4 linked regions of the Homo sapiens genome follow. The protein of the gene in region 3 interacts with the protein of the main gene of each other region in a biochemical or structural test. Each region holds a gene or a part of one and is shown on either strand. Other genes may lie near its edges. The genes, in order: MAGI1, DLG4, NET1 and DLG1.

Region 1 (7,026 bases), on a different chromosome or scaffold from region 3:
TAAATGGAGGCCAAGTGAGCTCTACTGGATGAGAATGCTAAAGGGTTGTAGCACCTTGCTGATTCTAGCCAGTTTCCATGTGGATAAGTCATTCAGGGATAGAGCTGAGGTACATGAAAAGCCCACACAGCCTGCACAGCCCTTCCCCTTCTCCCATTGTATTCCATAGTAAGTAACAAATGTGCTTGGGAGATAACAAATGACTTTTTACCCAATCAGGAAGGTGGATCATTTTTGGAGTGTACATCTATAATCAATCCATTGCAATGGGAAGCAGATTCATATATCACTAGTTTCTGCAATCATCTGGGTTTCTATTGGTCTTTGCTAGTGTACCCAGAAGAGAGTGAATCCTTCTGAGAAAGTGACAACTGTGTTTCTCCATACTTTGCTGAAACCCTCAATGTCTGGACGAGACAGGAAAATCGAATGACTCTTAACTCAGATTTTAACCAGACTTTAAATCAAGCAACAGTAAAAATATTATTTAAAATTAAAAAAAATTCCTATGGGGATAGAGTAGAGAAAGAACACAGATGAGGCAGACTAGCATCTCATGTAGTATTTTTACTCCTTACACCTCTGTTTTTCCTAGAGCATTTTTACAGCCGTATGCTCCTTGTAAAAACTCTTAAGACATTCTTAAGACCATTCTGAGGCCCTTGCAATTAGTGCTATCCTATTCAAGACCTTTCGAAAGCCTTGCTTTGGCAAAAACTGTAGACTCTGTATGCTGTCCAGGGGTTCCTATTCAAATTTCTTTTCTTTCCTTTCCTTTTCTTTTTTTTTTTTTTTTAAGACAGAGTCTCGCTGTGTCACCCAGGCTGGAATGCAGTGGCACAATCTCGGCTCACTGCAACCTCCACCTCCCAGGTTCAAGCGATTCTCTTGCCTCAGCTTCCCAGGTAGCTGGGATTACAGGCATGCACTACCACGCCCAGCTACTTTTTGTACTTTTAGTAGAGACAGGGTTTCACCACGTTGGCCAGGTTGGTCTCAAACTCCTGACCTCAAGTGATTCACCCTCCTCGGCCTCCCAAAGTGCTGGGATTACAGGCGTGAGCAACAGCGCCCGGCTGCTATTCAAATTTCACGCAAATCTGATGTATGCTTTAAGTTGTGTATGCGTGATCACATTCTCAGTGTGGAAGTTGAAAGGGTTGAACAAATATTCCCAACCTTCAAAAGGGAAAAAGCTACCAAATCAACTCCATCTCCAATTAAGTCTTTAATTACCCAGAGCAAGAAGCTATAAAGCATTTCTGCACGTGAGGTCTGAGTCAGCTTTCACTCGCAAGAGAACAAAAACTCCCAGGCATGGTGGGAAACCCTGGGTAATTTCACGTTCAGCACTCACCAAAGGTCGTGCCTGCTTCGGGCCTGCTCACCGAGGACACGATGACGAAGCCGAAGCCCTCGTTCTCCCCGCGCCGGATCTCCACGTCGTAGGGCTGCACCACGGTGCTGACCACGCCGCTGCCCCCGCCGCCGCCACTGCCGATGCCGCTGGTGCTGCCGCTGCCCGAGCTCACCGTGTTCAGCGAGTTCTGGCTGCCCTGCGGAGTGCGCTTCTCTTCTGTCAGCGAGGCCGGCTGGTTGCTACTGTGATGAGAGGAGGCTGGCGAGGGCACCTCGTTCTCGGTTTTGGGCACTGTAGCAGAGAGATGCACGCGTACATCACCGTGTCCTGCAGCCCCTCCATCCTGCTGCCCCTCCCTCCTTCCAGCAACTCCTGCTAGAAATCAAAACGTGAACCGAGGGGAGGAGACAGCACCTGGTTTCACAATACCTGGATATACGGATTGAAAGCAGCTTCTCTTGACAAATATTAACCATTCAGTATCTACGAACATTGATCCCACCTAACACCAAATGGGACTCCCAAATAGCGTTTGTTGTTTATAGCATGCTATATGTCGACATCCACACTCAGAATCAAGTCTGCAGCAAGATCGGCCTGCTGTGAAATATTTCCCCATTGCACAAAGGGAAGGGCCTAAGCGTAGGTGAGGGCTACACCCGTGAAGACCGCCATCTTGGCTTCATAGATACAACCTTGGATGCACGTTCACATTGTCATTACTTTCCAGTCACATTTCCACCCAGCTTTTTCCATCAGGCGACAAACAGTAAGGTGATGGTAACGTTGAGGCTACCCGCCCTATGTGGGGTTCATGACAACACCTGTGAGACATACACATGCTTCTCTTCTTAGCTTCCAGGTGTCAACATCGACTCTGATCACAGAACTGGATACACTGGCCTCCTTCTGAATTTAGTCACCGTTCTAGTGTTACCATCAGACTGCAAGGTAAAGCACTCCTAAATAGCCAACACCGTAGGTGGAACCAACTATGCCAAAAAACAAAATGTGTGTTGTGTCCAAGTTTTGGATCAGACTGTATTTATTTCCAAAAGCTTCTCTTTTCATAGATTGTTTTAATTTTGGAAAAATAAGCATAACAAATTTTTAAACCATTTTTAAGCATACAGTTGAGTGGTATTAAGTGCATTCACATTTTTGTGCAACCATCATCATCATCCATCTCCAGAATTTTGTCATTTTCCCAAATTGAAACTCTGTACTCATTAAAAACTAATTCCCCTTCCTATTTCCTCCACCCCCCACCAACCATCATTCTGCTTTCTATCTCTATAAATTTGACTACCCTAGGTATCTCATATAAAGGGAATCAATATTTCTCCTTTTGTGACTAGTTCACTTGCATAATGTCTCTTCATAGATTTGACACGCCTTTTACACAGAGCTAAAAATCCAAAATATTTAAGATTTAAAAAAATAAACCTGAAACAACAAAAAAAATCACATTGCCTTACTATTTCTATTTGGGCCAGGGAAGCGAGATAGTTAGTTTTCATCTCATCTCAAAAACTCGTTCCAGCTGACTGCTTTTAGCTACATGGAATAGTATGTTAAGAAGGATTGTGAGGTCACAAACACACTGGAATTTAACATCTTAATTCTATAATTAATCATATACCATTTAAAATGGGTTATACTCTTTTTTTTTAAAAGAAGTTACCAATTAATTTTATCTGACAGGTATCTGTTTCACTAATATGAATGCCAAGAGAATTCATAATATTTCAGGTCATATTTCTCCAGTAATTCCACTGATAGAAGACAATCACCTCTGCTGCACTCTGGGTTCTGCCTTAAAGGTTTCAAGGTGGGAGCTGCATCCAAAGGTGAACAACCAAGGTGTGTTCAACGTGAGCTTTCAAGGGAAAGGACAAACACTCACACAATTCACTGTCTCAAAATGGCAGATTCTGATACAGCAGTAAACCATGAGTCACTAGAATGGCAAGGAGGGAATGCTAAAATCTGAAGGCAGTTGGAGGAAGGAGGAATTTCCAAGGGAAGAAAGTTATATTTGAGCTGAGCCTGAAAGGATATGTAGTATTTTGAGAATTAAAGTTCAAAGCTTATGGGCAGGAAGAAGGAATCAAAGCTGACCTAGAACTGGCCAGCTCTACAACTTTCTTGTAGAAAGAAAAAAAAAAAATCTTGGTTTAATACATAGGACAGTAAGAAATCAGTAACTTTTTTATGAGCTTATTTTGTAGCACAAACCCGATTTTTGTTCCCTTGATATGAAGCTACAACTCTTCTGACTTTCATAATGACCTCATTTGCTGAGGATTAGCATCAAATGAAGAGGATGGCTAAGTTCTGATTTGCAAGGAGATAGAAGGGAAGTAATATATATTCAACTAGCCTTCCTCTGGAAGCCTTTGTTGAACACATGCAAACGGCACATTAAAGTACTTTAGAATGACAGTAATTTTTGCAGGGTTTGAGAGAAGCAAGCCATCTGGAAATTCTGAGCTTGATCACATTTGCAAACATTTGCTAAAATAGACGCTCAAGGAGGCAGACACAGGAAGGAGGCCTTTTCTGTGAATAAAGTGACAACGCACTGTCTGAAGGAATGAATGAAATACATACCCGCAAAAACCACTTTACGCCGCACCGTGAGATTGACGTGGCCTTGCTTGGCAGCTTGTTGCATAAGCTGGACCACAAGCTGGTGTGATTTTCCAATTACTGGCGTCCCATCCACACAGATTAATTCATCTCCAGACCTCAGGCGGCCGTCAGTATCAGCAGCACCCAGTGGTACGATGTGACCAATATAAATCTGTTGAGTAATTGAACGATGGATGAAACATTGCTCTCCTATGTTTACTGTTACATCAATAGCCTTCACATCTCTGGGAACAATTCATTCATTCATGTCTGCAGGCATGCCGCAAACATTTATTGAGCACCCACTGTGTACAAGACATTGTGCTAAGCACTGCAACAATTCTTAAATGGTGGAAAGAGTATTTCTTGCTTAGTTTCCAGATGTTTATCTGTGGCCTATTGATGACTCACTCTCTTTTTCCCCTTTGCAGATATAAATTACTTTTCTCCCTTCATTATATACCCTATTCTTCTTTGGTAGCTACCTAAAAACTCTCTTTCCATAAAACTCTGCTAATTAAAATATTAATATTACTTTTATTTAAGGGTCTAGCATCATGCCTAGGAATAGGGAATCTGTAATAAATACTCTTAAATGAATGAATGAAGCAAAAGTTGGTTGGACATCTCCATTTTTGAAGTCTTTTAGCACCCGAAAGCAGAGCACTCTTTATAGTTAGTGTCTTGCTGTTATATTTGCCATTCACTAAACCTTAGCTAAAATATTTGTGCCTGCCTTGCCTTTCCAGCAGACAATAATGCTATAGCTACCTTTACGTGGCATTTATAGTTTACAAAGAACTTTGACAAAATAGTTGCTAAGAACATGAACTCGAGTCAGACCTTATTTGTCAGTCCCTCCATTTGGTAGCTCTGCGATCTTGGGCAAGTTAGTTAGCCTTTCTTTTCCTTGATGTGAAAACGGGATAAACTGGTGGGTTTGACGGATAAATGAGAGAATGTATGTTAAGAGCCTTTAGCACAGAACCTGGCACATAGTAAGCGCTCGATGAATAATGGCTGTTATTACCACAAGGAAATTAACGATACCTATTTCAGTTTTCTTTTCTTCCTTCAAAGGAACCCTGTTATGTTATTCTAAATTTATTCCAAAATGGAGGACACTGAGGCCCAGGGAAGTTCAATGTTTCTTGACCCTTACTCAGGGTTCTTTCTCAAGTTTTGTAAAGGCAGGGGTCTGACATTCTCCAATCACTGTCTCATAAGGCTTTGCGAAGTACTCTCTGCACACCAGCAACTCAACATACAAAGCCTACTACCTGCTGGCAGAGTGAAGGGACCTGGCCAGAAGGACCAGGCCACTGTGATATTAGGTGATGCCTATTCCTGTTTTGCTTTCTGTTTTCATCTCCCTTGGGGGAAAAGGGGTGGTCTACAGAGGCAGCTCCCACCTTTCACAAACACTCATACAAACTTTTTAGAAAGAATCTAGTCTCTTCTTCCTCAAGACAAAGAGAGCTCCACAAAACCCAATGAGAAACCCACACTACTCAAGATTAAAGAGTCAGTGTTGCATCTAGCTGGACTTAAATCTTGGTGATTTGTCACTGTCGCCAATTTGCTTTGAAGCCTTAGAAAAATATGCTGGGAAGAGAGACAAGCAAAAGACTCACAGGTTCCCCTGGTTCATTTCCACCCAGAATCCTAAATCCAAATCCAGTCTCTTTTCTCCAGAGGAAGATGTCCTGTTCCTGGTAATCTGGAACTGCAGAGAGGGGAGAAAAAAGAGAAGGATTATTTTACTGATAAAAGCAATGATACCCCCAAGATGAACACAGTTGCAGGACAAGAATGGTGGTGCTTGATCAGATGGAAGATTTTCAATATAGGCAAAGAAACAAAATACTCTGAACAGGTGAAATAATGGAAGACACGGGGATAAACAGTGGGAATAGTCACTGAGCCCTAAAGTTCTTCACAGGACCCATCACTGTTTGATAATTCCGAATCAAGCCCAAGCCATGATCCTTAACTACAAATAGTCAGCATTAACTGCTTTCCTCAGTATTCTTGCAAGGAGAATTAAGTAAATTAAAATTATTATGTGCCACACCACAAAGCAGGTGTCCATGTCCAAGAACACTCAGGCTAAGTCAGAGTCACCTCTGAAGCCAGATCTAAGGATTCGGAAGTCATGTTAAGTCACCAGATGTTTCCTCTACTAGAGGATGAAAGAGAACAGCTTGGTTTAAACAGACTTTCTGATTTATCTTTAAGTCACTTTCTTCTTCCTTAAAATAATTAAGGCTAGCAATGCTAATAGGCTTTGTTAGATCATTTTTGCCAAAAATTACTCTAAAACATCCTAGTATTTCTGCATACAGTCAGTCCTCCATATCTGTGGGTTCTGCATCCTTAGATTCAACCAATCACAGATAGAAAATTTGTTAGACCTACAATGGTTTTAGCTGTGATGAATACGTACAGATTTTTTTCTTCTCGTTATTCCCTAAGTAATACAGTATCACAACTATTTACATGGCATTTGCATTGTATTAGATGTCATAAGTAATGTAGAGATGATTTAAAGTATATAGGAGGTGGGGTGCAGTGGCTCACAGTGGCACTCCCAGCACTTTGGGAGGCCAAGGCAGGCGAATCGCTTGAGCCCAGGCATTCAAGTCTGGGCAACATAGTGAGACCTTGTCTCTACAAAAAATAAAAAATGAGCCAGGTATGGTGGTGTGTGCCTGTACTCCTAGCTATTCGGGAGCTGAGGTGGGAGAATCACTTGAGCCAGGGAGGTTGAGACTGCAGTGAGCCATGATTGCCCCAGTGCACTCCAGCCTGGGTGACAGAGTAAGACCCTGTCTCAAATAAATAAACAAACAACAAACAAACAAATAAATAATATAGGAAGGGGTGTGTGTGTGTGTGTGTGTGTGTGTGTTACACACAAATATTAGGCTATTTTCTAGGGATTTAAGCATCCATGGATTTTTATATCCTTGGTGGGGGATGCGGGTGTCCTGAAACCAATCCCCAGCAGACACTGAGGGGTGACTGTACAA
Region 2 (7,026 bases), on a different chromosome or scaffold from region 3:
CGCGATCTCAGCTCGCCGCAACCTCCGCCTCCCAGGTTCAAGCAATTCTCCTGCCTCAGCCTCCTGAGTAGCTGGGATTGCAGGCATGCACCACCATGCCCGGCTAATTTTGTATTTTTAGTAGAGATGGGGTTTCTCCATGTTGGTTAGGCTGGTCTCGAACTCCCAACCTCAGGTGACTCACCCATCTCGGCCTCCCAAAGTGCTGGGATTACAGGCATGAGCCACCGGCGCGCCCAGCCTGTTTTGGTTTTTTTTTTTTTTTTTTTTTGAGATGGAGTCTCGCTCTATCGCCCAGGCTGGAGTGCAGTGGTGAGATCTTGGCTCACTGCAAGCTCCGCCTCCCAGGGTCAAGGAATTCTCCTGTCTCAGCCTCAGGATTAGCTGGTATTACAGGCGCTCGCCACCACACCCAGCTAATTTTTTTTTGTATTTTTAGTAGAGACAGCGTTTCTCCATGTTGGCCAGGCTGTTCTCAAACTCCTGACCTCAGGTGATCCGCCCGCCTTGGCCTCCCAAAGTGTTGGGATTACAGGCATGAGCCACCTCGCCCAGCCAACAAATAGCCACATTCTTAACTTTGCATATTTTTCCAGTTAATTCACTTAGATTTTGATCTAGATGCACAGTAGTATAATTTACAAATAGAGATAACTTTTGTTTTTCCCTTCCAAATGTAACTATTCTCCTTGTCTTGTTACACTGTCTGAAATCTCTAAAGCAGTGATTCTCAACCACCATAATTTCGCTGGGGCAATTCTGTCATAACATTTTTTAATTGTTATGACTGAGGGGGAGGAGTACCATTGTCATCTGATAGACAGAGGCCAGGGATGCTGCTTAATATCCCACAAGGCACAGAACAACCCCCCACAATGAAGAGTTATTGGGTCCAAAAATGTCAGGAGTAACACTGAGAAACCCTGCTCTAAAGCAATGAAGAATAATAGCAGTGGGAAGAGGCATCCCTGCCCTCTTTGTAAGTTAACGGAGGCCGGGCGCGGTGGCTCACGCCTGTAATCTCAGCACTTTGGGAGGCCGAGGAGGGCAGATCACCTGAGGTCAGGCATTCGAGACCAGCCTGGCCAACATGGTGAAACCCTGTCTCCACTAAAACTACAAAAATTAGCCAGGCGTGATGGTGGGCACCTGTAATCCCAGCTACTCGGGAGGCCGGGGCAGCAGAATCACTTGAACCTGGGAGGCAGAGGTTGCAGTCAGCTGAGATCACACCACTGCACTCCAGCCTGGGCAAGAAGAGCGAAACTCCATTTCAAGAAAAAAATTAAAATTAAATTAAAAAATAAGTTAATGGACACACTGCTAAAATTGTATCATTATAAAATGTTTGTTACTGGTTCCTGATAACTAGTCTTCACCATCTTAAGGAAAATTTCTGTGTTCCTAGTTTACTAAAAGCTTTCATCCAAAAGAGATGGTGAATTTCACCAAATGCCTTTTTCACGTCTATTTAAGATAATCACATCGTTTTCTCCTCTCGCTCTGTCACCCAGTCTGGTGGGCAGTGGCGCAATCATTGGCTTACTGCAGCTTCCAACTCCTCGGCTCAAGCGATCCTCCAGCCTCAGCCTCCCAAGTAGCAAGGAGTATAGGCACGTGCTAATTTTTTTAATTTTTTTAGAGACAGGATCTCGCTTTGTTGCCTAGGCTGGTCTCAAATCCCTAGCTGGTCTCAAATCCTCCCACTTTGGCCTCCCAAGTGCTGGGATTACAAGCATGAGCCACCACACTTAGCCTCCCGTAACGTTTTAATATATGAATCATATTAAGAGATTTCCTAATATTGAGCCATCTTTAGTTTTCTGAAACAAACCCTATGTTATTCCCTTAACATGCTGCCATGTTTGCTTTGCTACTATATTATTGTAAACTCTTGTATCTCTATTCAGAAGCAAAACGGGTCTATACTCTCCTTATTTTACACTATCCTTGTGACCATTCGAACTGGCCTTATAAAATGAAATGTGAAATCTTTTATCTTTTCCTGTACTCTGGAAGAGCAGAAGAATTATCTATTCCTTGAGAATTTCACAAAATTAGCCATAAAACCAACCAGGCTTTGTGCCTTCCAGGAGAGAGATCGTTGACGATCTTTTCTAGTTCTTTTATGGTAATTGATTTTCCATCTCTTCTCCAACAACAGCAAGGATCAGAGGTTGTGGCTATTTCATAGGGAATATCTGAAGAGGGACAGCTACAGGGATGTCGTGGGACTGCATGTCATGGGTTAAACGGGATGGGTCATGGGGAACTTTGGTGTTTGAAGGGCTCTCACAGGTTGTGATGTCTGGGGGAGCATAGCTGTCACTCAGGTAGGCATTGCTGGGCTTGGCCACCTTTAGGTAGACAACATCATACGTGTTCTTCAGGGCTGCCACAGCATCTTCATGCATGACGTCCTCTAGCCCCACACTGTTGACCTGGAGTCAAGGAAAGCAAAGCTCAGACAAAGCCACAAATGGCCCAAGACAGAAGCACTGGGGTGAAGTGATGAACTTGGGCCTGCCAGGGCTAGTAGGTGAGACCCAAATCTGGGCTAGAAAATGGGCTAGATGGAGTCCTCACCGCCAGGATCTTGTCTCCAATCTGCAACCTCCCATCCTTGTGGGCAGCACCCCCTTCGATGATCTTTGTTACATAGATGCTATTATCTCCTGGGATGTGCTGGTTCCCTACGCCCCCTGCGATGCTGAAGCCAAGACCTGGATGGAGGGGAGGCCAGAGGTGGGTGCCCAGGAAGCAGGCTTGGGGGCACAGGACAGTTGGGATGGGGGTGGGAACAAAATGAGTTACTACCTTTAGGCCCCTTGATGAGCTTGATCTCCATGACCTTCTCAGCCGGGGGCTTCCGGCGCATGACATAGAGGCGAACGATGGAGCCTGCCTCTTTGAGGGCTTCCACCGCCGCTGAGTGGGTCACCTCGCGCACGTCCACTTCATTTACAAACAGGATGCTGTCGTTGACCCTGGGAGCAGCAAGGTGGGCCTGAGCCAAGAGCTTCCTGCTGCCCTGGCCCTCCCTCTCCAGGGACCAAGCAACCTAACCCCTGTCTCCTCTCCCCACCTGAGGCGGCCATCCTGGGCCGCAGCCCCACCAGGAATGATCTTGGTGATGAAAATGGATGGGTCGTCACCGATGTGTGGGTTGTCAGTGCCACCTGCGATGCTGAAGCCCAGACCTGAGTTACCCTGGGTGAAGGAGGGGAAGAGGGTCAGCTCCCCTCACTGCCCAAGTCTGGCAAGGCAAGTGGGGTGGGAAATGGCTTGGAGCAGCCAGAGGAGGAAGGCACAGGGTGAGGGGCTAGCCACCCAGACCACATGGCAGAAAGAAAGGTACAGACGGGAGGCCACGGGGACTGCCGATGGAGGAGCCTGCTCACCCTTTCCAATGTGATTTCCTCGTATTCCATCTCCCCCTCGGTCCCGTTCACCTGCAACTCCAGCACGGGACAGAAACACAAAAGCAGTGAGACAGACATTCCTGTCTGACCACCTGCCCGTCATCTGCTGCCCTCCCTTACTCCCTCCTTCCTTCTGCAATGGCCCCAGCCCCAAAATCTAAACAACTCACATATCCTGGGGCTTCTAGGGTATCTGTGTTGACAATCACTGGGGGAGAATTGGCCTGTTTGGGAAAACAAGAGACAAAAAGCAGCCTGAGCCTTGACTCGAGAGGGAGCCCATAACGGAGGGTCCCATCAGCGTGGCTACCCTTTCAGCCTCTTAGCCAAGCCCACTCCGCCACCCTGAGAGCTGCTCAAGGGCCCAGCCTCAATCCACATCACACACACGCACACGCGTGCACATGCGCACGCGCACACACACGCACAGATGCACACGCGCAAGGATCTAACTCTGCCCAGCCCGGGGCCCCCTGCATGTGGAAGGAGGTGTAGGAGAAGCGGGAAGGGAGACAGCCAGACGGAGAGGGGAGCAGCAGATGGCAAAGAGTGGGGAGAGGGGGGTAGGCTTGGGGGAAGGGAGCTTCTCACCGGATGTAACACCACAGGGTGTTACATGCCTTATGTGCTACACATGGACACCCCAGGGATCATGTCCACCGGGTCCTGGTCCCCATTTCCTGCCCCATCCCCCCAACCCCCCATATCTACCCAGATATTTTCATAACCCTCCCCTAGACTTGCCCCTCACTTTCACAGACATTTGCCCTAAACCCTGCACCCCGGGAATCCGGGGTTCCCCAGCTGCAGGCCCCTCCCTCGGTCTCACCAACCAGCCGTCCAATCCACCCCTTCCTCTAAGGACCGTGTTGCCTAGCAACGGTATCTAGGACCAGTCAAGACCCGGGGAGACCCACCTCCAGGAGGCCCTGTCGTCAGGACAACAGGGGGGTGGGGCGTGGCCTGGGGCCGACCAAACTCCTGAGCGCAGAAGGGATCCGCTAGCCCCGCCTCTCCTGCCCTGGGCCCCGCCCCACGTTAGCCAGGCCGAGAGGAGGCCGGGCTGAAGAGGTTTGTGGGCGCAGCGCATCCTGAATAACCTGCCTTCCTCGCTCCCCTACGCCCCTCACCCTACGCAGTGCAAAGGACGTCAGGAACTGGGAGTGGTGAAAGACATCCGGGTCCTATCCCGCTCATCTACTCCCTCCCCCCACTTCATTCGGGAAAGGGTTAAAGTGGGGCGTGCCCAGGTCCCTGACGTCAATCGCCTGGTCTCTAGACTCCCAGGCGGGGCCCGCTTTAGCCCGGTCCTAGGGGCTTCCCCAATTGCCAGGGCAACCGAAGCCACGTCTCTATGGCAATGGGGGGAGGCCGCCAAGAGCCTCCTTCCGGGGTCCCCAACCTACTTCCTCCTTAAAGAAACATGTATTTGCAGTCGCCCAAGCGCAAGGATTCCCCAGTCTCCTTCCCGCTCTCCCCGTCCAAAGGGGTCCCTCCCCTCTCCTACTGCTATTTCTCAAGCCTACAAACTACCGACCATTTTCAAGCTGTATCACAGATTTCACACCCATAAATCTATTAACACCACCCTCCAACCCTTCACATATCAGCAAATGCTGTTGTCCAACCAACAGTCACTGACTGCCAAAATCTCATCCACGTGTTCATCCCCCATCCCACAGCCCGTCCCCCATCCCACAGCCCGTCCCCCATCCCGCAGCCCGTCCCCCATCCCGCAGCCCGTCCCCCATCCCGCAGCCCGTCCCCCATCCCGCAGCCCGTCCTCCATCCCATAGCCCGTCCTCCATCCCATAGCCCATCCTCAATCCCCATCCCCATCCCTATCCTGGAACCTCCTTCCCAGCACACCCACCTTCATCCACTACGACATTCATTTGCTTCCCATCCCTATCTCTGCCCGCATCCCACATGCTCCATCTCCATCCCTGTCTCGCCCTTCAACATCCATCTTCCAACCCCAGCCTCCATTCTCCATCCGCTTCCCTGGCCCTGTCGCACCCTCCAGCCCCATCCCTTACCAATGTGGCCTCATCCTCCATCCCAATTTCTTTTTTTCCAGAGACAAGGTCTCGCTGTGTCACCCAGGCTGGAGTGCAGTGGTGTGATCATAGCTCACTGCGGCCTTGAACTCCTGGGCTCAAGCAGTCCTCCCACCTCAGCCTCCTGAGTAGCTACAGGCACATGCCACCCCACCCAGCTACTCCATCTCAATTTCTGATTCCCCAGAGAGTTTATCACCATTCTCCCTTACCCTACCTTCATACCCTCAAGATTATTCTCAAGTAACAATCTTACACTTCTCAATCAACTCCCCTCTCTTCTGAAAATTGGGGCTTCTCCTGTTCCCCAGGTGAGGCCTTGTCCTGAGACCTCCACCCCATGCTTATGGCCTCCAACACTCTCTCCCTCCACCCCCTTCTGCTCCTGAGCTCTGATCAGCAGCAGCTCTGTACTAACTACCACCCCTCAGGCTCCCTACCTCCTCTTCCCCCTGCTCAGGGATTTAATGGCCCTGCCTTGCACAAAGCATCTCTAGTCTTCTTTCCCTCACTCCTAGCATCCACAGAATTCGCACAAACACTCTGTACCATCCCTGTCTCCAGGGCCTTCCTTTCCTTGCTCTGTCAGCCTCATTCACTGCCCTGATCTCACAGTCTTATCCCTATCTGGCCCCTGACCCAGGACCTCTTACCCTTCCTATCCCCCAACTCCTCTCTTGCCAGTTCTAACTCCAGAACCTGCTTGCCCGCTCCCTAGGCTCAGAGACCTCCTCCCCATCTTCTTGGTGAAATGTCAGCAACCTCCCCCTTCCCAGAGCATCCCACAACATCCTAGAATCCCCACCCTGACCCCACAGTGTCCCCTCAATCTCACAGCTTGCCTGGTGCTCTCCAGTCCTCCCCATCCTGTGTCCCCAGAAGAGGAGATGGAGGAAGGGGAAGATGGAAAGTGGACTGGAGAATGGAAGGTCCCAGAAACCAGGCCTCCCGGGACTGGAGAGAGGAGGACGCTGTGAGCAGAGAGGAGAAAGGGAAACAGGTGGTGGGGGATGATGGAGGGGGCAGAGGGGGATAGAAAGAAGATATGGCAGAGGTGAGAACCCAAGAGGATGAGAGAGGGGAGGAGGAAAAGAGGGAAGGTGAAGATGAATAGGCAAGAGGGAACATGGGAAAGGGGAGCTGGCTGATGGAGGGAGAGGACTGATGAGGGAAAGGACTGATCAGGCCCCAGCGGCCTGGGCTGGGGATCAGGGAGAGGGAGAGGAGAATGCGTGGGAGGAAGAGAGAGACAGCATCAAGAGCCAGCCAGCCAGCCAGCCAGCAGGGAGGAAAGGCTGCAGAGGGGGAAGAGAACTCAGGAGTGGAGCAAAGCTGGGGCAGGGGACGAGGCAGCAAGGCCCCACCATGTGAAGTCTCAGGCCAGACAGATGGAAAGAGCTGGAGACTTGGGGACAGGGCGAGCCAGGCCCAGAGGCGGAGGTAGGGGGAGGAGGCGGGGAAGGGACAAGAGCAAATGAGGGCAGCAGGCGCTTGGAACAGAGCTCTGGACACAGAAAATGGAAATGGAGGTTGGGGGTGTGAAG
Region 3 (7,140 bases):
AAGGGATGACAAACCTGATTTCAAATATTCTGCCCTATTGTGCCTATAAGTACACTTCTGCTTGTCAGAATGACAATCAATGCAGTCCACATACTTAGCTGTTGGACTACACTCCCTTTCATTTGGCAGGAACAATTAAGTTTGACCCAATTAAAAATTACAGTCTAATAAACAGTTTTGTAAATTAATCAATAGTAGATATAGTAAATATATTTTTAAAAATTTCAGACTTTATTATAACATTCTATATATAAATTATATGTATATGCACACATACAGACATTCATTCTCCTGAATGTAATTGCTGTTAGTTCATGAGAAGCTATGAGAAGATTCAGACAAAAAAGAAAAACGTTGATGCAAAGGGCAATTCTCTAGTTATTAAGACTACTAGTTTTCTAATGGTAGGTCATTGTTTGCAAATTTGCTACATTTTTCTATGGGAGCCTACAGACCAAAGGGGAATCATTTAGCTAGTGATAGCAATGGCAAACAAAATATCACATCAAAATCATCAAATAATTTGGAAATTAATAAAGTGTTTTGATGAACACTTTGTACTCTAATATATACATATATATATATATATATATATAAAACTTGGTAAGCAGTTTTGCAAAAATAGTTTGATTTACTTAGATAATGAAAGAAAATAGGTTTTTAAATTATTGATTTACATAATAATTTACATTCATTTATTGATTGTTGAATTTATTTAATATCAACTTGCAAAATGATTGGTGTCATCACATAGGGCTGAAGGTTTTGGAAATAATCTTTGAGGAAGTTCCCCAAAAGAATATTTGTTTTGCAAATCCATGGTTGAAAAAGTTTGGGTTACACTTTGCTCTAGTCAAGTTAGTAGGAATATCTTCTCAGAGAGGGAGTTCTAGAGTCTGATTTTATATATATGAAAGCTGAAATCAAAACAATTTCCTCAAACCCTATCCCGGTGAATATTTTAAGGGAGAAGGATGATTTGTGGGGAACTGAAAGAGAGAGGATTCAGAGAACATTTGTCATGGTTTTGGGACTGTTCTATACAGTGTAAGACATAGAACATGGGGACAATGGCATTCAGACACCAGAAAGTTGATCTCTTGTAAGATCAAGAGATGTCACCAGCCTTTCCCAGGTCTTCAATGACCAACCCTCAGAGCGGTCACTTTTCTTTGCTCTTCTTCTATGGTACCCAGCCATTTTCTGATGAAAATTTGTCTTCTATTCCTTATTTCCCTAATGTCTAGCACAGATCCTGGCATATTATAGCAGGAATTTAATAAATTCTTGTGAATAATTGAACAAAATCATAAGTTCTCAAGTGAATGAAAATTGGAAACAGTTGCTCTGCATAAAACAATAGTATTCAGGTCACTGGAAAGAAGTGCCCACCCCCACCACTGGAATCCCCACATTGACATCCTGCAGTATCTATCATTTTGTGAGTAGTTATTACAAGTTACCAAAGGACTGACCACCTCTGATGACACAATCAAAACCAGTTTCAGGACCTGCAAAGCTGAGGACAGACCCTGAATTCTGAGGATCTCACCGAAGTATGTTGAAACTATTAATATGAAACGGCTGTTTCTGTGGGTAAAAAGACCAAGCGTCAGCGATTCACATGGTCCTATCTTGTGAACAAAAGTTCTCTGAAAAGGAAGTTTGGAGAAAGGAGACTTTATTCTAGTGAACAGTTTGCAAACCAGGGAGACACAGCCTTCGGAGTAAAAGAAAGGTGATTCCAGAGAATAAAGGGGAGGGTTTGGCTTCTATAGAAAAAGTTCTTGTCCAGGTTTCCAATCAGATGTGTTTATGCAAAGGAAAGATTCAGACTTGCTCAGTTCAGATTGGGTAATACAGCTGAACCCTGATTGGATAAAGCAGATGAGTTCTGATCGGTTACATCAGGTGAGCCCTGATTGGTCAATTCGGGTAAATTGTGAAAATCCCAAAGGGGTGTGAGTTTTCTGGACACAGAGTAGTTGTGACCTACTTGGGACCTGACTTGAAGAATTGCTCTTACAGGTTTATTTTTGTTCATAATCTAAACATCTGCATCCTCTGAAGCTCTGTCTTGGTGGAGACCAACTCCCCAAATATTAAGAACATTTCTGTATTCTTACACTCTAACTGCTACAAAGCAGTACTTTCTTCTTTAATTTTTGGGGAGGGATGGGGAAGGTAGAACAGAAGTGGTTCTTGACCAAGGTCAACTTATGTTCAGAGCTGGTTCCTTCCGGTGGGTTCATGGTCTCGCTGACTTCAAGAATGAAGCCATGGACCTTCATGGTGAGTGTTACAGCTCTTAAAGGTGGCACAGACCTAAAGAGTGAGCAGCAGCAAGATTTATTGTAAAGAGTGAAAGAACTAAAGCTTCCACAGTGTGGAAGGGGACCCCAGTGGGTTGCCCTGCTGGCTGGGGTGGCCAGGTTTTATTCCCTTATATGTGCCCTCCCATGTTCCATTTTTGTCCTATCAGAGTGCCCTTTTTTCAATCCTCCCTGTGATTGGCTACTTTTAGGGTCCTGCTGATTGGTGCTTTTTACAGAGCACTGATTGGTGCATTTTACAATCCTCTTGCTAGCTACAGAGCACTGATTGGTGTGTTTTACAATCCTCTTGCCAGACAGAAAAGTTCTCCAAGTCCCCACTCTACCCAGGAAGTCTAGCTGGCTTCACATCTCAATGTTACTCCCTAATTTCTTACTCTTTTTAAAACAAAAACATTTTTCCCTCATGTTATAAAGGTACTGCAAATTCAATATGTCCTTATTTTTAAAAAAATTAAATGCAAAAAATAAAAATAAAAATTTTGAATACCTAAAGTCTACCTAGAGACATTTTAATACATTGACTTTTTAATACATTTAATACATTTTAATACATTATCTTTTTTCTTTGTATAATCTCTTGTAATTCATAACTTTGAATATACTGAATATACCTCTATACTTCATGTTTTTATTTCAAATTACCAGTATACTATTACATACTTCACACTTCATTTTTGTTGGCTGAAAATATTCTTCTCAGTGGATGAGCTATAAATCATTGTTTATTTAGGTTGTTTTAAATGTTTCTATTATAAACAATGTCATTAATAGCTTCATGTTTATATAATTTTATTTTTTAGGATAAATTTCCATAAGTGGAAATATACTGGCAAAAGAGAAGTGTTTTTTTGTTTTTTTTTTTTTGGAGACGGAGTCTCGCTCTGTCACTGGGCTGGAGTGCAGTGGCACGGTCTTGGCTCAATTCAAGCTCCGACTCTCTGGTTCAACTAATTCTCCTGCCTCAGCCTCCTGAGTAGCTGGGATTACAGGCATGCGCCACTCTGCCCAGCTAAGTTTTGTATTTTAGTAGCGACAGGGTTTCACCATGTTGGCCAGGATGGTCTTGATCTCCTGATCTCGTGATCCGCCTGCCTCAGCCTCCCAAAGTGCTGGGATTACAGGCGTGAGCCACAGCGCCCGGTCAGGAGAAGCTATTTTTAAAGACTTTGACACATATAAAGCAATATTTAAAATCAAAGAAAGTGTAATTTGTTTAACAATTTTTTTTTTACTTGAAGCGGTCTTTTATTTTATATTATGTCTTTTGCTGACTTTTACAAGCAAAGGATGAAGTCACTTCATTCTGTTTTGCTAGGGAGAGACTGTGTCATGCTTATTGGAAGACATAAGGGCTCATAATTAGATTTTGCTGGTTCCCTAGAGACAGTCCCGGGAACACACTTGCATAACCTTTGGTAATTGGAAATATATCTCATATTGGCCACGTGCACAATAATTCAGTGTGAATATGGCCAATAAACATGCCTTGTTTACAGGTCATTAGTTTGGACCTCTCTTCTCCTCAAATGCTAAGAAAGATCTGGTGAATTAAAATGCTTCCAGTCCATTTGCCTTGGCCTGTAGTGAAAGTCCTAATGAACAATGAAGGAGGTACCGGGCCTTAGGGACTCAGGGATGCGCTCAGGAGTTAAGGGCAAATTTTCCTAGGTTCTTTCCTAGGCAAGTAGATCCCGGGAGCGGTGGAGGGGCGGGACTCCACGTCTCCTAGGAACCGCTGCGCGCTCACTGATTGGCTGATCGCTGCTCAGCCGCCATTTTCAAATCCCCGGATGACGGCGGTGGCGGCTGCAGTCCGCTGACAGGCGCTTTCTGCCTGGCAGAGGCTGGCGGGCATCGTGCCCGTCCCTGCCGGTCTCCCGGGCACCCGGCCACCGCCCCACCCCCTCCTCCGTGCCATGGAGCCCGAGCTGGCGGCTCAGAAGCAGCCTCGACCGCGGAGGCGAAGCCGCCGGGCCTCTGGGCTCAGCACGGAGGGAGCGACGGGGCCTTCGGCCGACACCTCCGGGTCGGAGCTGGACGGGAGGTGAGTGTGGGGGAGGGGAGGGCCGAACGGGAGGTGAGTGTAGGGGAGCGGAGGGCCGAACGGGAGGTGAGTGTTGGAGAGGCAAGGGCCGGGGGGAGGGGAGGGCTGGCCGGGAGTTGGATGTGGGGGGCGGCGAGTGGGGGTGTTGGTGAGGGCCAGGGGGAGGCGAGGGCCGCTGGGAGGTGAGTGGGGGGTGGGGGAGGTGACCGCGGGGTTGGGGGGGGGGACGGGGGCCGCTGGAAGTGAGGGTGGCACAGGCTGGAGTGACAGTGTGCCTGGCCTTGGACCGAGGTCGGTCCTGAGACCCCAAACTGCGATTTTCCCTGCCTGTGGCAAAGGGGCGGGTTTATTGAGTCTCCTCGCCTCCTGACTGTTTCTCAGGGGAGACTTAGGAAAAACCACAATGGTTTTGTTCTGCACACCCAACTGGCTGTAGGCTGGCGTTCCCAAATGCCTTTGCTCAGACCGAAACTGTCATGGTGAGCACCACGAGAATGGGCTTCCATGTCCTGAGAAAGAAAAGACTAAGGGATAAGTTGACTTCGGGATATGTTATGAGATGCCTATTAGAGAGTTCATCACAACCATTTTCGTGTTTTTTCTTTTTACTTTTTGTGGAAGTATACATTGAAATGAGAGTGTATGACTCGTGTTTGGCTCAGTGAAATTTCACAAAGCGAAGCTCAGGGGATAGCTAGTGAATTAGGAGGAAGGGAACCAAGTGAGAACAGTATCCAGGAGGCCAAATGAAGAAAGAATTTCAAGAAGAGGACGTGGCGAGCTATGTCAGATGTTATTGATAGGTCAAATAAAATGAGGATTAAGTAAAATAAGATGAGGATTAAGCTAGATGAGGAATGAAAATTAAATTTGGTAATGAGAAGAGAGTATTGATCTTAGATGGTTTCCAAGAATGGTTACAATATCGAACTTAGAGTGTTTTGCAACAGGTTGAGAAGAGAATGTGCGATTTGTTCAGAAAATAATGTGAGTGCCAACACTAGGAATATGGAAATGGAAAAATACTCTTGTTACTATTTAAGATTTATAATCTAGTGGGGAAGAAAGATAAGTAGGTTAATAATTATTATAATATGTGATAAAAGTTATTATAGTGATATACACAGAATGCCGTAGATTAAAAGGAACACTTAATCCTGACTGGAGAGAATAGGAAATGATTTCCTATTGTAATCCCTGAGTCTTTAAGGACCAGTTTAGAGAGCAGATGTAAATGGATGATTTCAGGCAGAGAAGCATGTAGAAAGGCCCTGAAGCAAATGAGTCTGATGAGTTCTGGGTATATATTCTATTTTATTACTATATTAACAGTGATATTTGTATAGAGGAGAGGAAACCAATATGGGGAGAAGGAGGAGGTAGTCATGAGAGATGATGCTAAAGAGGTAAGCGCCACATCATGAAGAGACCTTGTATGCCTTGACAGAGTTTGGGTTTTATCTTCATGGTAATGGGGAAATACTGAAAGACTTTAAATGAGCCAATGGCATGACATATTTGCATTTTAAAAGATCAGTTTGCCTTCCATGAGAAAAATAAGCAACATTTTGGAGTCATCTCACTCTTCATATTTTATGAAAACTATTCCCCAAAAATGTGCACATATACATAAACATTTCAGGAGATTTGTGGACCCAGCTGTGTATACCAAATTAAAATTTCCAAGTTTAGCTGATGGATTGGTAGGAAATCAGTCTGCAGTAGTCTAAATGAAAAAATGATTGTTCGAATCTGATAGCTGGCAATGGGATTGGTGAAGAGAAGTTTCACTGCAACAGGAAGACAAGAAAGAATAGAGAGAAATAACACAATTTTGTGGGATAGACTCTTAAGAAAGAATAAATTCCCTTGATGTGCTGTGCTGAGTTAACAAATAGAGGGAGAGGTTGAACAGACAGTAGAGGAGAAAAATGGTTGAACAAGGATCCAAGAAGGCAGAAAAGGACAGAATCCAAATTCAAGGTAGAGGATTTAGCCTAACAAGAAGCTATGGATGATATATAGTTTTGAAGAATGGGGTGTGTTGTGAGCAGGAATTTGAGGACTTTCCCACCAGGCCTCTATTTTTTGTGTGAGGTAGGAAATGATACATTGTGAGAAAAGCGTAGTAACACAGGCAGCATGAGGAGAGTGAGACACAGTTAGAAGAACCATGGAGAGAAAATGGAGAATTAAATAACATATTCCTTTTCCAGAAAAGATGTAAGATCATCTACAAGAATACGTAAAATATTACAAGATAGTATTAATTGTGAGGCAAGAAGCAACTAAGCACTGTATCAGATTCAGAAATCATAAGGAAAAAGATTTGTGTGTATGATTATGTGACTATTGAAAAACGTTCTGCAGGCAAAACTCAGTATAAACTAATTTGAAAGACAAATACGTACAGTACAATTTACCCACTTAAATTGTACTACTTAGAACATTTTCATCACCTCAAAAAGAGCATTTGTACCCTTTAGCTATTGTTCCTCTCCTACCCCTTCTGCCCTAAAACCTAATCTGTCGGTCTGTAGGAATTTCTCTGTTCTGGACATTGCATATGAATGGATTTATGTAATGTGTGTGGCCATTTTTGGTGGGCCATCCTTTGCTCTTTTTTTTTTTTCTTTTGAGACGGAGTCTCAGTCTGTCACCGGGGCTGGAGTACAGTGGCATGATCTCGGCTCACTGCAACCTCCGCCTCCCGGGTTCAAGTGATTCTCCTGCCTCAGCCTACCAAGTAGCTGGAACTAC
Region 4 (7,026 bases), on a different chromosome or scaffold from region 3:
TAGGCCTTGGCTGCTTGCTCAGTGGAGAGTCCTGACTATTATACTACTTTCATCTTGTCTCCTGCCCTTCCCAGTTTTCTGAGCCTCTTCTGGCTGGGACTGGGCATGGCTGATGTGTTCCACACAGTGAGGGCCATAACATGTCACAAACCTATGTTTGACCTGTCATACCACTGCAACTCTACCATTTTTGGGCTTGGGTGAAGTGTTGTGCCATGGAGTATAGGAGCTGGCTTCCCTAGAAACTGCGCCCAGGGGAGTTGGGTAACACAATCCAAAAGCTTGGGACAAATAACCCCTAGGGGGTAGACAAGAGACAGGAGAATAAAAGGGCCAGCAGATAAACCTTTCTTTCTTTTCTCTGGATGGCTGGATGTAAGGTTTATGATGCCCGGATGGTTTTTACAGTGTCTGCCTAGAAGACTGTTATACATGACAAGCAACAAGCTACCTTATAAAATTACAGCCAGCTCAGACACATTCTACCTTCTATTGGCTCTCGTTCATTCTCTGCTTCACTCCTCATTTTTACTCACTCTAGCCTTCTTGAGATCACACAGCCAAATAATACCTTAGCACTTTAGCTTTTCTTCAGATTCCGTTTCCCTAAGGAACATGGACTGAGACAGTTATTGATTGATATGGTATGGCTCTGTGTCCCCACCCAAATGTCATCCTGAATTGTAATCCCCATGTGTTGGGGGAGGGACCTTGTAGGAGGTGATTAGATCACGGAGGTGGCTCCCCATGATGTTCTCTTGATAGTGAGTGAGTCTCATGAGATGTGATTGTTTTATAAGCATCTGGCATTTCCACTGCTGGCACGTCTCTCTCCTGCTGGCATGTGAAGAAGGGCGTGTTTGCTTTCCCCCACCCTCCACCATGACTGTAAGTTTCCTGAGTCTGGTGAGTCAATTAAACCGCTTTCCTTTATAAATTACCCAGTCTCGGGTAATTCTTCATAGCAGTGTGAAAACAAACTAATACACTGATGAAGACTGGACAAATAAATTGCAGTACAGACATACAGTGGAATAGTATGTAGAGATAAAATGAATGAACTTTAGCTCTAAGCAATGATATGGGTAAGTCTCAGTAAAGCAATATTGAGTGAAAAAAATACTGGAGATGAAAGTCTCATACAGTGCAATAGTGTTTTGAAAAAGCTTCAAAACAAATAATACTAAACAAAATTATTTAGGCATATGTATATAATTAAACTTTTTTTTTTTTTGAGATGGGCTTTCACTCTGTCACCCAGACTGCAGTGCAGTGGGACAATCACAGCTCACTGTAACCTCAACCTCCTGGGCTCAGGTGATCTTCTCACCTCAGCCTCCCAAGGAGCTGGGACTATAGGTGTATATCACCAGGTCTGGTTAATTTCTGTATTTTTTGTAGAGACAGGGTTTTGCCATGCTGCCCAGGCTGGTCTTAAACTCCTGGGCTCAAGCAATCTACCTACCTCAGCCTCCCAAAGTGCTAAGATTACAGACAGGTGTGAGCCACCACACCCGGCCTGATTAAACAATTTTTAAGAAGCAAAGGAATAAGAAACACAAAATGGTTGATGTTCTAATTCTTGGGCTGGGTAATTACTAGGTTTCATTATACTATTAAGTGAAGTAAAATAAAAAAGGGTCATGCATAAACAAATGATGACATTGTTTTATAAACCTAAGGATTATGATGAAACACTCTGTGCATACAAGCCCTCAACAACAACAAAGGAATAAAAGGAAAAGGGAGGAGGAGCTAGCAGAGAAAAGAGAAATGACAAATAAAGAATTACCAAGAATCATTTTTTAGGATTTGATACAGCAAGGCTAGTATTTGCTAATTTAAACATCATTTAGACCTTTTTGGTATGGAGAAATTCCAGTATCTATCAGAAAAATAAACAGACTACAAAATGATTTAAAAGACAATAGATTTCTTATACTTACTGCTAAAAGTTTATCTCCAATCTGAAGTTTGCCATCCTTATGTGCTGCACCTCCTTCAATTATTTTGGTTACATAGATGCTATTATCCCCAGGAATATGCTGATTTCCAACACCTCCAGCAATGCTAAACCCAAGACCTGTTTGGAAAACAGTTCTAGATTCTCATCCATAAATATGAACTTAAGCCCAGAAAGAAATGGTTGAAAACTACAAGGTAATTATTCCCTCACACTAATATTTTTTAAAATAGAAAAGAATCTATTTAGTTATCTACTAGTATATGTTCTGCAATCAAGGGACACTTAGACATACAGCTGCTCCTAGAGTTACGAATAGATTCCTTTTATCCCACATGTTCCTTCTTAGTATCTTTTCGCAAATGCACTTGTTATTCCAAAGTGACATTGCGAAATTATGTTTTACTTTTGTTTCCATCATAATTATGCTTACCTACACTTTTAATATTTTCACAAGAACAAAATTATTGAGAAGAAATAACAACATTGTCTGGTGATGGTGGGCAGAACCAACAGGCTTTAAAAATGTGAATACCTTTGTTCTTCTTCAATATTCTATGAATTAACAATTTTAAGTAAGGAATTTCTGTAATTCCTAAATCCCATAGCTTCAATATCAGATAATTTCTCAGCTCTCCATTCCTTTTTCATTTGTTGACATCCTCCCTCTTCCATGAAGCCACATATTGAAACTACTATTTCCATTTATCCTCAAGCCATCAATGTTTTAAAAATTCAGCAATCACATCTTAACAGTCCTTTACTGCAGATGTAACTGCTCATAATACATATTATAAACACTTCTTCTTTTAACTTAGCCTGTGTACCTGCATTTAAAGTATTTTGTAGATTATCACAAGTTAATAGCAATACTAAACTTCAAAGTGTTCAAGGACACAAATATTTCACTCTTTTAATGCTAGAAGTCTTCAATATAAGAATACTTAATACAAATAGGGACATATCCACTTATAAAACAAATAGATATTTTGTTCCCTACTTTTAAAAACTCTTAAAAACATGCTGAGCAAATATTGAATATAAAAATCATAAAAAACTTATAAATTTATATATATGCTCACTGCAGTAAAATGTATAAAAGCATACATCAATAAACGTAAGAATTTTGGGCCAGGTGCAGTGGCTCACACTTGTAATACCAGCACTCTGCGGGGCTGAGGTGGGAGAACTGCTTGAGCCCAGGAGTTTGAGACCAGCCTAGGCAATGCAGGGAGGCCTCCGTCTCTACAAAAAATAAAAAAAATCAGCCCAGTGTGGTGGTGTGTGCATGCAGTCCAAGCTACTTGGGAGGGTGAGGTGGGAGGATCGCTTGAGCTCAGGAGGCTGAGGCTGCAGTAAGCCATGACTGCACCACTGGACTCCAGCCAGGGTGACAGGGCAAAACCCTGCCTCAAAAAAACAAACAAAAAAACCCCGCAAAAAAAGGAACTTTTCAAATGCTGCAATCTTGGTAGAAATGTAAATATTCTAAAATGCTACGTAAGACAAAAATCAGTAGAAATAACGGAGAAATTAAAATCCACTCAAGTTCTGTAGAATATTACTAATACTGTACTTGGAATGTATGTCACAGATAAAGTTCATAGGTATATTTAACTCAGAGATTTCTTAAAGATTTATCTTAGTTTGACTTACCACATACCTTTAGGACCTTTAATGAGCTTTATTTCCATTATTTTTTCTGACACTGGTTTCCTTCTTTTTACATACAAGCGTACAATAGACCCTGCTTCTTTCAACGCTTCAACTGCTTTGCTATGTGTTACATCACGAACATCTACTTCATTTACTCGTAATATACAGTCATTGACCCTGAGAAAACAATTAAATATTAAAAATAAAAATTAAATATAATTTAAATATAAATTTTCCACTTTACCAATTTTTTGTTACTTCTTTTTTAAGGTAAAGAGAATTATAAATAATTCTGGAGTAATTCCAGAAAACATAAATGAAGAAAGTATATCAAAAACTAATATAAACAAATACAAACATTTCCCAAGGGCCAGCAAAAGGAACAAAAGAAATAGTGAAAATAATAGATTATATAAAAATGTTAAATAATAATTACAGCTACCATTTGCATACTTCCTGCATGCTTATTCTGTGTAGGCATTAAGACACACTTTATAAAAATAGCAAACATTTATTTAGCACTAACCACATGCCAGGCACTTTCTTGGTATTTTAACCCTCATGACACCTGTAAGCTTAATATATATTTTAATCCCTATTTCACAGATGGAGAAACTGAGGCACAAAGAATGTAAATAACTTTCCTAAGGCCACCCAGATAATAAGTGACAGAGCTGTGATTCAAAGATAAGAAAACTGAGGCTCACATCACGAGTTTAAGGTCACAGAGATAGTGTGAAAACTGAGATAAAGTAAAAATAATTTTCTGAGTGCCTATTCCAACCTATATATTAGACATAAAACAATTAAGTTATTTTTTGAAATTTATATAAAGATTAGGTCACTTAATTCAAAGGTTTCGTAGGTAAAGAACTTATAATTTGCCATGGTGTTATGTTTTTTAAAAGTCTGATTTGTTCCTAGTCTTAGCCTTTTCCCTAGTTCTGGTCTCTTTGATTGCATGGTATTCCACCAGGAAAAAAAGATGGTCATCTCAAATTGGGTAGAGAGGGTAAACAAAACATAATTAAAATATTAAAACTGGTCCTGACAAGCTTCTATATCTAACAGAATCAGGAAGTAAATGTCTACATTTACATGAATGGTCAAATGATTAATTTTTATATCTATTTGATTTCATTAATATACCACCTGTCATACCCAGTGAGAATTATAAAGCTTAGAAATTCAAAAACTGCGTAAGGCATCAACGTCCTTAAAATAAGATGCTGTTTTTAACAGACTACATAAACTCTTTAGTCCTAAAACTTCAGGGTATTTGAACAACAAACAAGGAAATAGGAAAAATGACATAATTTATGACCCTCAAAAAATCAAAGTTTGCAAAATATATCTTCCAAAATGGAACACTAAATTTAAACAGAGACAAATGTTATTTTCATCTAGTCAATAAGAAAATATATTATTTAAAGTTTGCATATAGTCTTTGTGGTGTGGGATTCAACATGGATGTGTGATCCTCTATCCTCCGTATCTTAAATAAGTTTATATACATGTTTCCCAGCCAGAGAGGAAATGGAAAATATTCTGTGAGTGTACTTAAATAAGTTTATACACATGTTTCCCAGCCAGAGAGGAAATGGAAAATATTCTGTGAGTGTATCTGAAAACACAAAGGGAAACTCATGATTTCTATAAATATGCTCACAAAGATTTAAACCATCAACCAAATTTGTTATTCAAAATGTTATAATATCTAAGATAAAACTGGAGTCTAAATGAAAACAGGAACACAATGCTTAGAGCATAATTATCTCATTCATTGACTTGAATGTTGTTAAAGCATCTACCCTATGCTAGTTATCATGATCGTGTTTGTTATTTGTATTTATCCCTTATCCAGTCTGCTTCAAGAAAAATACACAAAGTGGATTCAGCATCACAATAAAAAGCGCAAAACATACCGCAATCTTCCATCTTGGGCGGCTGCTCCCCCTGTGATAATTTTGGTAATGAAAATACTTGAGTCATCTCCAATGTGTGGGTTGTCCGTACCTCCTGCAATGCTGAAACCAAGCCCTGAATTTCCCTGAGGATAGAAGAAAAAAAATTGAGACTGAATATGATTTATCTTTATGGACAGGTTCCTGTCATTAAAGGACGCAGAAACTGTACTAACATAAGGAACACAACAAATAAAGGTATATGGGTGAGTAATATAAAGATTCTAAATTAAATGGACTTGTTCTGGAGGAAAGTCCTTTCAGAGGCATTACTGCTGAACAGGTGAGGTTCAAGAAAATACACCAAGGACTTTTGAAGTATACTCCACAGTTCTTTCTTTAAAAGTATGTGCAACTTGTCGTTGGATTAGTCACCCATCTGCAGAGGTGTCACTGTAAGTCTGTTTCTTTTAGACTGCACCTCAGCCATGTTTGGTAGGGCACATCTCTCCTAAGAGACAAATGCTGAAGTGATCTTCCCGCTGTTATTTCTGAGTAGGCAAAACCCATATACTGTTTTAGCCTTTAAAAAAGGGGGTGGCGATGGTGCTTTTCTTCTGCTAACTTGACATCAGCTTATTTTTAAATGACCAAATTGTGGCTGCTAAGTGATAGCTGCCATCAGTCCCTGACATGTTTAACCAATATACCCGATTAGCAAAAGGCATTGTTTCACACTGACTGAAAGACCAACCTGAGAACTTAACATTGGTGAATTTTCTTGACAGCAAAGTAAATTTTGCCAAAGCAGCTCTACTTTTTGCTTGTTTTATGAACTGGAGAAACAAGATTTCTGAATATGTTCTTCACAGAAAGGGTTCGACTGCTACAAAAAGCCTTTAAAAATAATTGATTTAACCAATGGTATTAAAAAATGTTTATTTCTTGAAGAATGTTCTAACTGAATTTCAGGCAACTCAAGTAAGCAAATATATGTGGACCTATCATTTAACTGTTAGTATTAAACAGTGTAAACACCCACTCTACCACCATTTGTCTTAAAATTCTATTTTAATAAAAAAATGTTTTTCAATCTAACTTCATGAATTACCTGAATCTTAAGAACAGTACCAGTGGATTATGGGAGGTTACCAAATTACTTAGGTACTCAAGTTCTTCAACCAGTGAAAAATACAATGTATAGTCCTAACTAAACAAAAGGAATTTAAAAGGCCCTGGGAAAAGATAAAAAATCAATAATATAAAAAGTTAGGAGACATCACAAACTACTATATTAAAGTATGTACAGTACATTAATACTGTGCTTACTTGAATATTACTCCAGTAGCCACCCAACTTGAGCAAGTGATCCGAATTTAAGTAGATGGCAATAAAGATATACATGTAAGAGACTCTCTCAGATTTATTTTTCTCAGATTCTATTCCAATATAAATAAATCTAATTATCTAGGATTTCAGTCTTGAGTATACACACATTTAGTT

What was found.
Region 1: the proteins of NET1 (region 3) and MAGI1 form a complex in vitro, tested with the Homo sapiens proteins (3 studies listed by BioGRID and IntAct, with this or other methods).
Region 2: the proteins of NET1 (region 3) and DLG4 interact in a biophysical measurement, tested with the Homo sapiens proteins (2 studies listed by IntAct, with this or other methods).
Region 4: the proteins of NET1 (region 3) and DLG1 form a complex in vitro, tested with the Homo sapiens proteins (3 studies listed by BioGRID and IntAct, with this or other methods).

The regions. Positions count from the first base shown.
Region 1 is NC_000003.12:65,377,904-65,384,929, forward strand, and holds part of MAGI1 (membrane-associated guanylate kinase, WW and PDZ domain-containing protein 1), read right to left. Parts: intron 5,721-7,026; coding exon 5,629-5,720; intron 4,167-5,628; coding exon 3,974-4,166; intron 3,224-3,973; exon of another isoform or gene 3,146-3,223; intron 1,652-3,145; coding exon 1,358-1,651; intron 1-1,357. UniProt on the Homo sapiens protein: Plays a role in coupling actin fibers to cell junctions in endothelial cells, via its interaction with AMOTL2 and CDH5. May regulate acid-induced ASIC3 currents by modulating its expression at the cell surface.
Region 2 is NC_000017.11:7,200,607-7,207,632, forward strand, and holds part of DLG4 (disks large homolog 4), read right to left. Parts: intron 6,666-7,026; exon of another isoform or gene 6,349-6,665; coding exon of another isoform or gene 6,325-6,348; intron 4,582-6,324; exon of another isoform or gene 4,340-4,581; intron 3,647-4,339; coding exon 3,593-3,646; intron 3,462-3,592; coding exon 3,402-3,461; intron 3,211-3,401; coding exon 3,086-3,210; intron 2,988-3,085; coding exon 2,818-2,987; intron 2,724-2,817; coding exon 2,587-2,723; intron 2,442-2,586; coding exon 2,297-2,441; intron 1-2,296. UniProt on the Homo sapiens protein: Postsynaptic scaffolding protein that plays a critical role in synaptogenesis and synaptic plasticity by providing a platform for the postsynaptic clustering of crucial synaptic proteins.
Region 3 is NC_000010.11:5,408,441-5,415,580, forward strand, and holds the start of NET1 (neuroepithelial cell-transforming gene 1 protein), read left to right. Parts: upstream 1-4,116; 5' UTR 4,117-4,252; coding exon 4,253-4,380; intron 4,381-7,140. UniProt on the Homo sapiens protein: Acts as a guanine nucleotide exchange factor (GEF) for RhoA GTPase. May be involved in activation of the SAPK/JNK pathway Stimulates genotoxic stress-induced RHOB activity in breast cancer cells leading to their cell death.
Region 4 is NC_000003.12:197,134,596-197,141,621, forward strand, and holds part of DLG1 (disks large homolog 1), read right to left. Parts: intron 5,670-7,026; coding exon 5,545-5,669; intron 3,797-5,544; coding exon 3,627-3,796; intron 2,084-3,626; coding exon 1,947-2,083; intron 1-1,946. UniProt on the Homo sapiens protein: Essential multidomain scaffolding protein required for normal development. Recruits channels, receptors and signaling molecules to discrete plasma membrane domains in polarized cells.